Homo sapiens: one gene and its partner. The protein of the gene in region 1 binds, or shares a complex with, the protein of each later gene. Each region holds a gene or a part of one and is shown in the gene's direction. Other genes may lie near its edges.

Region 1 (7,855 bases):
ACATGGCCTCTTAAGTCGAAACCACCAACTTCTGGTCGTCAGCCAAAGGAATGCTTCAATGACAATAAATGAGTCTCCGGTAGGGTGCTTTCCTGGGAAAATTTCAAGCTTGCTTTTTACCTCATTAATGTCATGCCCTCATAAGCTGTGACACGAGAGGATATTTTTTGGGAGGGGGTGGTATAAGGTGTATGGGGAGATGAAAGGGCACTATTTCAATGGACACACAATTTCTTTTACAATTGAATACAGAATGTACTTATTGTTACATTTATGCATCACCTTTTTTTAGTGTGATAAGTTGAATCTAATCCTTTTTCATACCCAGAGACGAATGAGTCTCATGCCCTTGATTTTGATTTCTTTGTCAACCTACTAAATTTTGAAGTATATTAATTGCTGTTTCTGTTTTGGTTAATGTCGACAGCCATACCACCATGACCGCACCTGATCTCAACTTTTTTTGGTTAAACTAGCTTTTTTGACCATTTCTTTTTAATTAAATTATGTATCACTGGAAGTTAATCAACTACATTAAAATATATTCGTTTTTTAAATTAGGTAGAACACACATGTGGTAATAAAATTTAGAGTACAAATTGTATTAGTTCTTCTAAATCTTCAATACTGCTTCAGGAATTGGGACACCAGTATTTTAAAGTCTGAGTGTGGCTCGGTGGCAACTCCAAAACCACTAAACAAAAAAGATTCAAGCATAGGGGTAGGGGGGAATCTCCAATTCAAGATAAGCCTATGAACCAAAATTCACAAGCATAAGAGGAAAATGAACAAATAAAATTAAGCCTATAATGAGGAGATGAATTAATTTTGTTTAAATAAACACAACAGAGAGATCTGAAAATGACTTTAATTGTTTAGGCTCTGGGAAGAGATGAAGGATAAAATAACATCTACTTTTTACAAAACAATTTATAAAAATACAAGCAGAAATGAAGCCAGAGCAGGTGACAAACAACCTGCACACCTGGAGGATTCCAGGCATCTTCCCAGGAACAGGTGACCCCTCACACATTTGCTATATCTTCCAGCAGATGGTTAGCTTGTGTCATTATGCCACACTCCTCTCTGATGGACACTTCTTTGCCGTACTCCAATCTGGGACTAGAAAGTCAAGGTGGGAGGAAGGGATAAGGGGAAGCAACTTCAGCCCCTCTTCATCTAAGGTTCTCCCCACACCATCCAAAGCCCCTCCAGTGCTGTCTCTCTCCATCTGTGTTCTCCTTTGTGCAGGAAGCAATAGGGCAGAGCAGATCAGTGCTGCCCAAACAGATAGATATCCAGGGAGTTGTCAGTCCCATCTTCCTGCAGGCACACCCAATCCTCACTGGTGATTCTTTTGGAGCCCCTCTCCTTTGGTTCTAGATGAGGACACAGTCTCCATGAGGGGACAGAAAGAAGGCGTCTCTTTCCATGACATTACAATTTCCCTAAAGGCTGACTTCCCTCCCATGTCTCCAATCTTTCTTTCCACAGATTACTGGTGATGGTGTGTCTGTGGGGATGGGGTTGGAAATGGGGAATAGGTGAGGGAGTAGTGGAGTGGAGGTAGAAGTTGGTCAAGAGCTGACTTCTTCAACAACTGCTCTTCAAATTCCCTGCTAGAAGGTAGCTGGCCCCAGCCACTGGCAGTTTTTTCAGTGTAGAATGTGAGCTCCTTGTGGGCTTTTTATTTTCAAGTTTGGGCTTCAGCAACAGATCCAGGACAATAGGAAGAGATGTATACATGGAATAAACCCCTCTCAATGTCTAGTTACATAAACATACATGTCTTCTTTGCCCTCCTCTTATAGTTTAACAAATGTTGGCATACTATTTAGTTTTCTGCACCTTGCTTTTTTCCCTCCAAGTATTTCCTAGACATTGTTCCATATCAGGACATATACATGGGCCTCATTCTTTTTGATGGCTGCATAGTATTTCACAATATAGATGTACTATAATTTACTATTACAGCTTTCTAGTGATAGACATTTAGTTTGTCTCTAGTTTTTTGTTATTACAAACAGTGCTGCAGTGACTATTCCATGTATACATCTCTTCTTATAGAAACAACTTTTTAAAAAAGTTAAGTAGAAACCCCAATGGATGTTTGGCACCCAATGGACAGTCCCTCTTAATTATGCTGCAACTGGTCACATACACTCTCCTCACTTTGAAAATTCTGGGACTTATTAAAAGAATTGACCATTCCTACTGTTTTTTAATTGCATTCCTTAGCATGTGATAGGCACTCTGCATCCACAAGAGTGTTTCTGTTCAAAGCTGCATCAAAGTGTAATGTCTTTCACATAGGAAAGCAGCAGTTAGGGACCTGCATTTAAGCTGGCTATTGTGAAACAAGAGCAAATAAGGGAGGAAATGGAATAGGGCTTAGTACAGCCCTGAGGTCACATGTTGCCAGATTTAAGTCCCACCCAATTTTCACCTAAACGACTTTAGATCTGTATGACACTCAGTTTTTTCATTCATAAAATGGGGTAAATATAGTACTGACTTCATGCGGATGTGGTAAGGATTAAATGAGAAAATATGCATGATTCTTAGGACAGTTGCTGGTACATAGTAAGTGTTGAATAAACATCAGCTATACATAAAGATCTCCCTTCAGGTGATAATGGCTATAAGGAAACTTACTAGCCAGGTCTAAGTTCATACCTGGGCAATTAATGATCATTGGTTCACAGTTTTCTCCTTTACTTGGCACAGGCAAATTTCTTAGTTTCAAAAATGTTAAAGTGTGACAACAAACTATACTTATTAAAGAATGTGGAAATAGAAGCCTAGACCTCTAGGGTTGCAAAAGGATTTCAATATCACCTTAGATTAGATTATCATGTAATAATCATTTCCATTTCTTATTATATACCAGATATTTTGCATATACTATCCCATTTAATTTTCACAAAGACCTATTTGAGAGAGATATTACTATTTTCATATTGCAGAAAAGACTGACAATCTCAGAAATCAAGTGACATGCACAACTGCATACCATTAGATTATAGAGCAGGAATTCGAACCCAGGTCTCTGAAAATATGAGATGTACAAACTGGCACACACTTTTACAGTGAAATCTCACTTGTTCATGGCAGAACCAGTTCATAAAAGGTCCTGAACGCTAAGAGAAAGATTGATTTAATTTGGGGGTGGGGAACTAAGGCAGGGCCACCTTATCCATTAGGCACAGTACAGTATGCACAGGGCTTAGGGCCTCCAATACTTTTAGGGGCCAACAAAAATGAATATTTATTTATTTTAGAGACAGGGTCTCCCCATGTTGCCCAGGCTGGAGTGCAGTGGCTGTTCACAGGTATGATCCCATTACTGATCAGCACGGGAGTTTTGACCTGCTCCATCTCCGACCTGGGCCGGTTCATCCCTCCTTAGGCAACCTGGGTGGTCCCTCCCTCCTGAACTTAAGTGCAGACACTCTATCTAGTGACACAGTGCACTACAGCCCAGAACTCCTGGGCTCAAGCGATCCTCTCTCCTCAGCCTCCCCAGTAGCTAGGATTACAGGCGCAGACTACCAGCCCTCCTTGCTTACGTTCCTTTTTTTTTTTTTTTTGAGACAGTCTCGCTCTGTTGCCCAGGCTGGAGCGCAGTGGCGCGATCTCGGCTCACTGCAAGCTCCGCCTCCCGGGTTCACGCCGTTCTCTTGCCTCAGCCTCCCGAGTAGCTGGGACTACAGGCGCCCGCCACCACGCCCGGCTAATTTTTTTGTATTTTTAGTAGAGACGGGGTTTCACCGTGTTAGCCAAGATGGTCTCGATCTCCTGACCTCGTGATCCGCCCGTCGTGGCCTCCCAAAGTGCTGGGATTACAGGCGTGAGCCACCGCGCCCGGCCGGCTTACATTCTTTTAAAGTCAGAAGAAAAAAATGAACTTTCAGGTCAGAGAAAATATTTTGTTATATAATATTGATACGTCATGTTTATATCAATGCAGTTGTAAAATATGTTAAATATTTATACATATATTTAACTTACATGTGTGTGAAATATATGTGTGTGTGTAATGTACAAGCCACAAGGCAAAAGTGCTCAGGGTCCAAGAAAGTCAAAACGTGTCCCTGCACCCGAAAAGCACGAAACCTTCTGGGGCAGTGATTATGGCAGAGCAAGTTGGAAGATGGCAGGTGGTAGACAAATTGTGAAAAATATCACATTTCTCTCACCCTGTCAAAGGCAACCCCAAAGTGAAGTCAAAATAGAGATGAAATGCAGGGTCACTTCCTAGCTGCGTGATCTTGGACAAGAGAGTTGACCAACCTGAGCCTCAGTTTCTCCATGGATACAATGGGGATGCGTGCCTCCGACGTTTGTTGGACAGGACCGGTATATACGAAGCATACAGCGGTATATACAGTAAATGCCCCCATAAATACACGTTGAATGAATGCAGTAAATGCATGCTTAGCATGGTGGCCAGTATACGGTAAGCGTCCAATAAGTGGTAAATGTTGGCTTTAAAAATTGTTCAAAAGTCTCCACGAGCGACAACCCTAGTTCTCCAAGACGCAGGCGCACCCCACCAGGTTCCACGCAGACCTGCGCAGTAGCTCCCCCAAGAGGCGAGGACACGCGACTGCGCTTGCGCATACGCGCTTTCCACCTTCCCTCCGGGCGCGAGCGCCCGTGGGGCGGGCCTCAGCGGCGGCGCGACAAGTCCAGAGGTGAGGGCTGAGGAAGGGGCGTGGCTAGCGGGCTGGCCTCAGCCACCCTCTTCCGGGCTCCGCCAGCTGCGCGCGCATCTTCTCCCCCTTCTTTTGTGGTCCGGCCCATTGCGAGGGTGACAGGAAACCCTGTGCAGGGAGCGCCGCCATCTTGGACCAGCCCGAGGAAGATACTGAGGGAGCACAGGAGCAGTCACCGCTGCCACTGCTACTGCCGCTACTGCTGCCGGCGCGTCTGCACCTCTCGGCCTGCCAGTGTACCTGCCGGCGCCTCGGTCGACCGCCCCCGCCCCCTCTCCCGCTGCGTCCGCACTCCTGTTCCTGGTCCTGACGCCCCCCTCCCGCCCGGAAAGCTGCCCAGCCACCAGCAACCCCCCAGGTAACCCGGGCCTTCCGTAGTGTCCGGCCGGCTGATACCTCCTCGCGCCGGGTTCTTCAGAGGGGCGTGTGTGGGGACGGTGGAGACTGGGCCGCAGGCGGGCGGCGCCCCGGGGCCAGGCCCCGTCAGGCCGTGGCTAGCCCGTGGGTCGGCGGTGAGCGCCGCGGCGCCGGCCTGACAGGACTCCTGGGCGGGGGCGGAGGTGTCCCCTGCGCGGCTCCGGCCTGAGCCTCCTGCCCTCCCCAACCGGCGGGGCGCTCCGAGGCGTGCAGGGAAGGGTGTGTTCCGGCCTCGCCTTCCCCGCCTTCTCGGCGCGGCTGGGCAGGACCGCATCTCCCGCGGGCCCCCCTCTCGCCGCTGTTCCCCGCGGCCGCAGCCCGCCCCCGCAGGGTGTACCCACGCGTGCCGCGCCGCCCTGCAGCCCGCAAGCCCCAGACGTGGCGGTCCCGTCCCGTAGGCCGCGTCTGGCTCTGAGTACAAAGGCAGCTCTTCGCAGCCCTCTTGGCGTCTCGGGGCAGCTCCGGTGTCCTTGTCGATGTGGGGAGCCCGGCCCTGCAGCCGGGCCGGGCCGGGGCCGGGGTCTGGGTCTGTGCGCCTGTGCTTGCGATGTCCTGGTTTTGGTGCGTTCCTGTGAGGCCCGTGGACAGCCTCTACGGCCCTGAACCTACAGAGCATCTAGAAATAAGAGAAAGTTGTGGCATTTCTAGAATCTAAGAGAAGACGACAGAGCTGGAGTGTTTTAAGCGTTTTAACTGTGGGCCAGGTACATATTTATGTATTTTTGTACCTATTTATCTTGCCCCGCGTAGCCCTCGGAGATAAGTTGTCTCCACTTCATAAGTGAGGAAACTGAGGCCTAAAGTTGTGATGTGTGTCTGGCTGTTGATGGTACATTACAAACTGGCTTCGGCTCACACTGTGGCTGGTGGTTTCTGTACTACATTCAAAAATTAGGCTAGGGTTACAGACATGACCATTTATAATGTAGTTACAACTTTATTCCTTTTTTACTGTGTTCGCATTGGATGACAGCTGATTACCCTTTTATGACCTAAAGTCCATAAAGTCAACCACTACACTGGCAAATCCTCATGCTTACAAACCCCAAAGGAGAGATGCCAGGATTTCAGTTTCATATATGAAGAAGAAACGGGTTCCAAGAGGACAGGTGCCTTCCTGGTGACCCCACAGCAAGTGTCAGAGCCCAGATTTGAACTCTTGCAAAGTTTACTGCTCATTTCGTTACTATCCCAACTGCCTTTAAAAAATTCTTTTATTTTTCTAAGGTAAATATTGTAGAGGAACAACTGCCTTTTATTTAGATTTGATTGTTGAAGACAAACTTGACCTTGCAGTAATCCAGCTCCTACCCCTTTATTCCCCCAAGCCTTTCCAAATTTTTTCTTCCAAGTTCTGTTTAGGCAGTTTTATTTGATCATGCCTAGAGGTATGTCGTGGTTAAGAGTTTTGGAGTCATACTGTCAAGGGTTCTCCCTCCAGTACTGCCACTTCCTAGTTAAGTGATCTTAAGCAAGTTACTTAACCTTTCGGACTCAGTGTCCTTATCTATAAAGGGGATAATTGGACCTGCATCTTAGAGTTGTTGCTAGGATTAAATGGGGTTTAAAGAAAGCCCTTAGCACATTGCTTGGCATATAGTAAATCAGTGCCTGTAACAGTGCCAGGCACATAGTGGGTGTTTAATATCTTTTGAATGAATGAGAGAGGAGTATAGCTTTGGAGAGCTACATGTAGAGTTAAACCTGGGCCTTAATTCTAGCTCTCCATTTAGTAGTAGTATGACCACGGGTAGATCACTTCGGTTTCCTTATCTGAAAAATGAGTTTTTAGGATTAGAGACTGTTTATAAAGTAGCTGGCATGTGTTAGGCCCTCAATAAATGGCAGTTATTGTAAAGACGTAAAACCTTAGATTATAATAGCTATTAAAAAATCCCTTGAAATTAAAGCTACATCTTAAAAAGTTGTTGCTTTTTTTGTATTACAGTTAAACTTTATCATTGTTGCATACTTCAACTTTGCAACAGAATTTGGAGTGTTCATTTTTATCAATATCAAATATCTTTGCATAGTCACAGTAAGATATTGTGCTAGTGGAGGAAACTTGATTAAGGTAAATAAAATGTGAAAACTTGGGCTATTGAGAGATGTTTCATGTTTTTTAAAAGAGGCTTGAAACATTTTTATGTGGTAAAAAATGCCAGGCATGGCTAAAGACAACAGTTTGACAAATAGAAGTATTAGAGGTACTGTACTTGACTTTTAAAAAGCTTCTTATTCTAGACAATTTTAAATATATACAAAATCAGGTAGCATACTGAGCATTCATATACCTATCAGCCAGTGTCAACAGTGATCAGTCTTGCTTCATCAATATACACTTGCCTCCTCCTTGCCAAATTATTTTGAAGCAAATCTCAGACACAATATCGGTAGTAAAATTTTCACTATTAATCCTTTTAACTTGAGCAGTAAGTGCAGGGGTTTTTTTTGGCTTTTTGGTTGTTAAGTGCTTTCTTTCTGTAAACAGAGGTCCAGTATTAGAATACTTTATTTCCTGTATATAGAAGACCATCAAAGTTACTTTTGCCACATTAAGCAATCCAGCTTTTAAAAATGATTCACATTATTTATATAAAAGTGACATTAAGTATATTGTCAAAAGTAAGGTTTTTTTTTTAAGTGGGTGGGCTACTTGTACTACTGTTGAGGAAATTGACCACTCATTTTTATTAGATTAGATTATTAGATTAACTACA
Region 2 (7,734 bases), on another chromosome or scaffold:
CTAACCTGCCAGGCTTGTCCATGTGCTCAGGGTTGATTGAAACTCTTCCTCTTTCAGTCCAAGCTGGAGGCAGGGCAGGATGGGAGGAAGGAGCAGCCTTCCTGTTCTGCCGCACCCTGGCTGCGGGAGGTATTTACAAACACTCCTGGAACTCAGTGACCCTGCGCGGGTTCAGCCGGCCAGCATAGCCTGGCCTTTGGGAGTGGGGAGGAGCGGCCACGGTGGAGTCTTCCCAGGGCCAGTGGGGAGCCAGGGGCCTGCAGGGTGCCTGCCTTGTCACTGCCCTTGTTGTTGTCCCTGTGCATCCCCCAGCCTGGATTCTGGGTCTGGAAAATTGGGAGAAGACAGAGGGTGACTCCTGGGCAGAGTCATGGGAACAACGTGCTCTGGGCTGGTGGAGGGGAAAAAACAGCCACCAAACAGCTGGAGGCAGCAAGGCACACCTGGTGCTGGGGCTCCGGCCTCTTCCTTCTCTGAAAAATTTCCAGTTCCTGCCTTGGGAAGCCCCCACTCCTTTGAGCTAACCCCTGCCAGTGGTCAGTGTCTGATGAGAGTGGTCTGGATTTCTCCTGGGTGGTGAGGCAGCTGTGCCTGCCTCCAAACTACCACATCTGCTTTCACCAAAGTCTATTTGTGTCTCACAGAAACTCAAACACATGAGGTCACAGGTACTTCCCCACCCTCTTTGTCCTCTAATCCTTTCCATGGGTGGAAGATATGCTTTGTTTCATACTCAGCTGGGGAGGCTGTCCAGCTAGGTTTTATGCCTTGTTTTCTTTATTGGGGGAGCAGCACTAAAAATGTGAGTGTTGGAGAGGAGGGGGAACTAGAGCTGAAAAACTTCCTCCCAGGCTGAGTTGTTTGTTTGTTTGTTTGTTTTTAAAGACAGGGTCCCACTCTGTTGCTGAGGCTGGAGTGCAGTGGTGCAATCATAGCTCACTGCAGCCTCGAACTCCTGGGCTCCAGCAATCCTCCCACCTCAGCCTCCCTAGTAGCTGGGACTACAGGTGGACGCCACCACACTCAGCTAATTTTTGAAGTTTGTTTTATAGAGACAGAATCTCAGTATGTTGCCCAGGCTGGTCTTGAACTCCTGGGCTCAAGTGATCCTCTAGCCTTGGCCTCTCGAAGTGTTGGGATTACAGGTGTGAGACGCTGTGCCCCACCTCCCCAGGTCAGTTTTGAACTGAAATCTATGACTTTGTCCAGCTGGCGTGTAGTAGAACATTGGACAGGTAGGATAATCAAGAGGAAAGTGTATACCCTCTTATTTAATTCAGTACCAACTTAGAAGAGACTCCAAGATGGGGAAGAGGTAGGCAGATTGGGGCAGAAGGCAGACAATCCCCAGGTGAAAATGAATGAAGGCATCTAGCTGTGACCTGCCTGCCAAGCTGTTGGCTGCTGGACTCCTTCTTCTCATACCTCCCTTGCAATTTGAGAACAGCCTAAGCAGGTCACTGCTCAAAGTTCTCTGAAGGCTGGCTCCCCTGGTCTCAGCCTGGTGTTCTCTGAAGGCTGGCTCCTTAGCCTGGTGTTCATGGTCTGAGCGCAGCCTGTCTTATTTCTGTCTTATTTCTACCACTCATTCTCAGTGGCCTCCTAAAGCATCCTACATTCCAGCCACAATGGGGTATGTGAAACCTGGAAACGCCACGACTCTCTGGTCCCCATATCTTTGCGTAGGCTGTTCTCCTCTTCTCTCCTGAAATGCTCTTCTCATATGTCTCCTCCTGTTTCTGTCAAATCTGATATATCCTTCAGGGCCCAGCTGAGCCCCTCCTACTTCACAAAAATCCACCAACTTACAGAAATCGCTCTCTCCTCAAAACACCCAAAGCATCACAGTAATCAGGACTTCCTTTAGATGATGCTGGAGTGCCTTGGAACTGAGTCTCATTCAGCTTTGTGCACTTGGTAGCACCCGGCACATGCCTGGCACAAAGTAAATGCTCAACAAATCGTAACAGGGTCTCGGTCTATTGCCCAGGCTGGAGTGCAGTGACATAATCATAGCTCACTGTAGCTTCAAACTCCTGGGCTCCAGTAATCCACTCACCTTAGCCTCCTGAGTAGCTGGGACTATAGGTGCGCACTACCATGCCTGGCTAATTATTGGTTTTATTTTTTATCTTTTTGTAGTAACGAGATCTTGCTGTGTTGCCCAGGCTGGTCTTGAAGTCCTGGCTTCAAGTGATCCTCCCACCTCAGCCTCCCAAAGCACTGGGGTTACAGGTATGAGTCACTGCATCTGGCCTCAAGAAGCCTTTATGGAAATTAACTGAGTCATAATGTTGAATGAGTATAATGGATCATCCAGAAGGGAAAATGGCACCAAAACAACACAGTTCTGTTAGGCTTTCTTGCCCCTTCTATGCCTGCTGGCTTCTTTCCCCCACTCCTCCCATCATCGTTACATATTTCCAACATGGCCAGGTGCAGTGGCTCACACCTGTAATCCCAGCACCTTGGGAGGCCGAGGTGGGCAGATCACTTGAGGTCAGGAGTTCAAGACCAGCCTGGCCAACATGGTGAAACCCCATTTCTACTAAAAATACAAAAATTAGCGGGCATGGTGTCGTACATCTGTAATCCTAGCTACTTGGGAGGCTGAGGTACAAGAATCGCTTGAACTTGGGAGGCAGAGGTTGCAGTGAGCTAAGATTGCGCCATTGCACTCCAGCCTGGGAGACAGAGCAAGACTCTGTCTCCAAAAAGAAAAAAAAAAAAGAAAAAAAATATTTCCAACATACTAAACAGGCCTTTCTCACACTGCAGCTGCCCTCAGTTGCAAACCTGAGGCATACCTCTGTCTTCTAATTTCCTACGTGGTAAAAGGAAACACTTGGTCCTCATGGTTGGCCAACTTAACCTGCAAACTCTTGAGTTCAGTAGCACTTCCCGGGTACCTACTGTGCACCCAGGTTTGTGCTGGAGGCTGTGAAGGAGACAAGTTGAATAAGTCACTACCTGGTCCCTGCCCTCAGCAGGGCATAGGAAGTCAAACCTTGGAGAAATATGAGTGAACCCTTGCAGTGGGAGGTTGGCAAAGACAGTCAAGGGTACAACGTAAAGGCCTGGAAGTAAAAAGTGTCTGGGCTACAGGTTTGTTTGTTCGGGAGATAGAGGAGAATGAGGTAGGGTGGGGTCAAAATGGAGTACCTTGAAATCTCTGTTCAGTCCGAAGGTAACGCGGTTGCTGGTGAGGCAGCCAGCAGGTTAGTGAAGCAATGTGCAGTGTGAACCAGAGGGAGGAGAGCCTGGAGATTGGAGGGACACGAGTAGCCATCCAAGATTGGGGTTCTGTGGATCTGGAAGAATCAAGAGATGCACTGAACAGCTGTTTGGGAGTCAGGACACTGGGATCCCAGTCCCAGCTCTGCAGAGGGACCTTGGACATGTCACTCCTCTCTTCTGAGTCTTTCCTTAACTGTAAAACTTTAAAACCTTCCAAGTGACCTTTCCAATCTGATGACTCGTTAAACAGTTGAGCCTTTGAACTAGGACCTGTGAAATGAAGGGAAGCAGCCGATCTATTAGGCATTTGGAACAAGAAAGGGACTGCCTGGGAGCCCAGGGATAGAGGCAGGGAGAGACTAAAGAGGGCCTGGCAAGGGAGAAATGGGGAACTGCGGGCTGGGGGCCTGCCACTGTCCCGATGTTTGATTTGGCAATCCCATTTTCAGTTCCTCCTTTCTTCCCTTTTTCTAACTCAGCCTCGCCTTATCTGGTGGGGGGAGGGCAAAATAGGACACTCCCACATTGAACTCATGCTCCCCAGGATACCTTCCCCTTTTCCGGCCCTCACAAGGTCCTCACCTTCCTCTGCAGCTGCCTTCCTCCAGAGCAAGGCTTTCCAGCGGGAGAAGTAGAAAGCACAGTGAATTGGGTGGGCATCTTCCTTAGCACCCTCATAGTTACCAACTTTATTTTTTTGAGACAGGGTCTTGCTCTGTTGCCCAGGCTGGGAGTGCAGTGGCACGATCTCGGCTCACTGCACCTCGACCTCCTGGGCTCCAGAGATCCTCCAGACTCAGCCTCCCAAGTAGCGGGGACCACAGGCGCTTGCCACCACTCCTATCTAATTATTTTTAATTTTTTTTGTAGAGACGGGGATCTGGCTATGTTGCCCAGGCTGGTCTCGAACTCCTGGGCTCAGGAGATCCTCCTGTCTCAGCCTCCCAACGTGCTGGTCATGGTTATTTACTGAGAACTCACCATGAGCCAGGCACTGGGCCAAGAACTGTAATGCATTATTATTATTATTTTTTACAGCAATCCTAGGAGGTGATTGTCAGGTGAAGAAATTGAGACTTGATGTTAGGTAATCCGCGCAAGGCCACGACTGGCGATGTGACCCTGGAAATGAGGTCTGACTTCCAAGTCAGTGCTTCGGCCAGCTCCTTCCCGCCGTGCGACCTTTGGCAGCTGGGGACCCCATCCGTCACCTACCACCTCTCAGATTAGATTCTCGATGCGCCCGCCCCTGCGCACGTGATCCCCTGCCTGCCTGGCCGCGCCAGCCCCGCCTCCGGCGCCCGGGTGCCCGGAGCTGCCCGCGCTGCTGAGGCCGGCGGGGCGGGGCGGGGCGGGGCGGGGCGCGGCGCAGCAGGTGGAGCAGGCGGCTCGGGCAGGGGCGTGGCCTTGGCCATGAGGGGCGTGGCCTGGCGGGGGTGTGGCCGGAAGCCTTAAAGTGGCCTGGTCGCCGGGGCGGGCCGTGGAGGCCGCCAGTCGCGGCGATCTTCTCCTCGCTTCTGGAGTGTTATCGTCACCATGTCCCTAATGGTCTCGGCTGGCCGGGGCCTGGGGGCCGTGTGGTCCCCAACCCACGTGCAGGTGACGGTGCTGCAGGCGCGGGGCCTGCGGGCCAAGGGCCCCGGGGGCACGAGCGACGCGTACGCGGTGATCCAGGTGGGCAAGGAGAAGTACGCCACCTCCGTGTCGGAGCGCAGCCTGGGCGCGCCCGTGTGGCGCGAGGAGGCCACCTTCGAGCTGCCATCGCTGCTGTCCTCCGGACCCGCGGCCGCCGCCACCCTGCAGCTCACCGTGCTGCACCGCGCGCTGCTCGGCCTCGACAAGTTCCTGGGCCGCGCCGAGGTGGACCTGCGGGATCTGCACCGCGACCAGGGCCGCAGGAAGACGCAGTGAGTGCGGGCGGGGAGGGGAGGGCCCGGCCTGGGGGCGCGGACCCCTCCGGCAGGGCGGTCTGGGCGCTGGACCCTTCGAGAGTAAGCCGGGCAGCAGCGGGGAAGGCCTTTCGGGACGGAGCCCTCGGCCGGTGCTGGTGTTCTCACCTGGCTTCCCCTTCTGCGGCTGTCCCGCCCAGCTCTGCCAGCTTTGGGTCTTCTTGGAAGAAGGGGCCGTATCTGGGGCGCTTTTTTTTTTTTTTTTTTTAGACAGAGTCTCTGTCGCCCGGGCTGGAGTGCAATGGCAATGGCACGATCTCAGCTCACTGCAAACTTCGCCTCGCAGGTTCACGTGATTCTCCTGCCTCAGCCTCCCGAGTAGCTGGGATTACAGGCGCGCACCACCACGCCCGGCTAATTTTTTTTTTTTTTTTTTTGAGACTGAGTCTCACTCTGTCGCCAGGCTGCAGTGCAGTGGCACGATCTCGGCTCACTGCAACCTCCGCCTCCTGGGTTCAAGCGATTCTCCTGCCTGAGCCTCCCGAGTAGCTGGGACTACAGGCGTGCGCCACCACGCCCGGCTAATTTTTGTATTTTTAGTAGAGACGGGGTTTCATCAGATTGGCCAGGATGGTCTTGAACTATTGACCTCGTGATCCACCCACCTCGGCCTCCCAAAGTGCTGGGATTACACGCGTGAGCCACCGCGCCCGGCCCGCCCGGCTAATTTTTGTATTTTTAGTAGAGACGGGGTTTCACCGTGTTGGCCAGGCTGGTCTCGAATTTCTGACTTCAGGTGATCCGCCCACCTCGGCCTCCCAAAGTATTGGGATTACAGGCGTGAGCCACCGCGCCGGGCCTGGGGCGCTTTTGAATCTGCAGGACGCCCCTCAGCGTCTGGCACACAGTAAGCACTAAGTGAATTTTAGATGAATTCCAACTATACGTGGGCAGGTGCCTTCTTCTTACTAGGGTGGTAGCCCGTGTCTGATACTCGCCTTCGCTTGGGTGGAAGGCCTCCTGGGTATTTCACTGAATAGAAGAACACTTCGAGCCGAGAATGACTGGGCCAGGGCGCAGGGCAGAGGAACAGGAGGCATGAAACCAGCTGACACCCCCACCCTAAAGGCTAACCCCGGGCGCAACGCCTTTACAATGCGGGGTGGGTGGAGGTTGGGGGAGGGGAATGGCGTTTGCCGGCTGTCACATGACTTGCTAACCCCTTCCCCTACCTCATACTTGCCTAGGGGGTTGGTGAAGAGAATTTGCCCCTACAGAAAGAATGTTACAACAGTGTGGTGTGTGCCCTGGGCCCCATGTTAGTAAAGATTTCTCCAGGTTGGAAGGAGCCCGGGTGGGCCCTTGACGGAGCAGAACTGGGCATTGTTTCCTTTTGGAGTTGGTAGAGTTCTTCTCTCTGGTCCTAATCCTGGTGGATGTCTGCTCGCCTGTAGCTCCCAAAGATTGTGTCAGGTTATTTCACTTCTGCAGTAAAAACTGGGCAAAAACCATTCACTCCATGATATTACCGAATTATTTGTTTCACAGGTGTTCGGAAAGGGCAGTGCTTCACCCAAAGGAACGTTCGATTATGTTCATCTAGTATGCCAAAGCTAGCCTCGATTAGCTTAGCTGGTTACTTTGTTAGATCTTAAATACACAGGCCAGTCAGTTAGCACCGAAAGCCTATAGTCTAGGAATCACACTGATTTGCTTTGTGTGTTTTAGATATACATAGCCTTTTAACTTTCCCTTCTGTGGGAGACAGGAAAAGCCAGAGGGTTTGTCCTCTGGAGGCTCCCTTTACTGTGGGGTGGGTTCCATTTCAGCATGTAGGCTTGCAAATGGAATATTTGATGATGCAAACTTACCTGGCCAGAGATGAATAGGCATTTCTGAACTCACATCAGATAAAACTAGCCTTGATGTGAGGATGGATGGGGTATCTCACAGCATCAATTTACAAGCCATAAGGTGAGCAGTGTTTTTGCTAAGGAGGGGCTGCAGCAATGCTGATCTTCCATCTGATTAAATGACACTGGGGGTGGTGGGTTGGCTTCCCTTCAGCTTCAAATGGGTGCTGTTGGCCATCCGTTGTCTTGCGCCATCCCAACATGTGTGTATTCACTTCCTTCTCTGCCACCTGTTTCTTATGTGGACATTTTATCCCCTTGAGAGGTAGATCACATCTCCCTGCCAGAGATGGAGATTCCAGAGTCCTGGGTCCAGTGCCCACAGCAGCCCTGACTCATTGTTGGGCTTCTCTGTCCCTAAACACCCAAGTTTCTCTATTTGTAAATAGAGCATGTTGCCAGACTTAATTGATGTTTGTAAGATGTTTCTGGGTTCCTGGATTAATGGGGCCAATGTATCCAAGAAGTGATTGAAAAGGTTGGCAACTGCTTTGTGAGAGATTGAAACCTTGAGCTCTCTTTTTTTCAGGAAGAGTTCAGTCTCTGCATCTTCATTTTTCTTATTTTATCCAATGTAACCCTAAACCTATACAATAACTCCCACCTATTATGTGAACCGATTACCACCTAGTCACAGTATTGACTTCCAGGAAAATGGTGCTTAGTTGATTTTTTTTTCTTTCTTAAAATAACTG

What was found. Proteins that work in one complex are often made in the same cells at the same time.
Region 2: the proteins of RAB14 (region 1) and RAB11FIP1 are in contact, whole or in part, in a crystal structure (PDB 4D0G), measured with the Homo sapiens proteins. Residues at the interface, in NP_057406.2 of Homo sapiens: Leu28, His29, Ile44, Gly45, Val46, Glu47, Phe48, Gly49, Trp65, Arg72, Arg74, Ala75, Val76, Ser79, Tyr80; in NP_001002814.2 of Homo sapiens: Glu1252, Ile1255, Asp1256, Asn1257, Leu1259, Val1260, Met1263, Pro1267, Asn1268, Leu1270, Arg1271, Ile1272.

The regions. Positions count from the first base shown.
Region 1 is NC_000009.12:121,198,860-121,206,714, reverse strand, and holds the start of RAB14 (ras-related protein Rab-14), read left to right. Parts: upstream 1-4,845; 5' UTR 4,846-5,076; intron 5,077-5,114; exon of another isoform or gene 5,115-5,232; intron 5,233-7,855.
Region 2 is NC_000008.11:37,896,481-37,904,214, reverse strand, and holds the start of RAB11FIP1 (rab11 family-interacting protein 1), read left to right. Parts: upstream 1-4,717; 5' UTR 4,718-4,773; coding exon 4,774-5,144; intron 5,145-7,734. UniProt on the Homo sapiens protein: A Rab11 effector protein involved in the endosomal recycling process. Also involved in controlling membrane trafficking along the phagocytic pathway and in phagocytosis. Interaction with RAB14 may function in the process of neurite formation.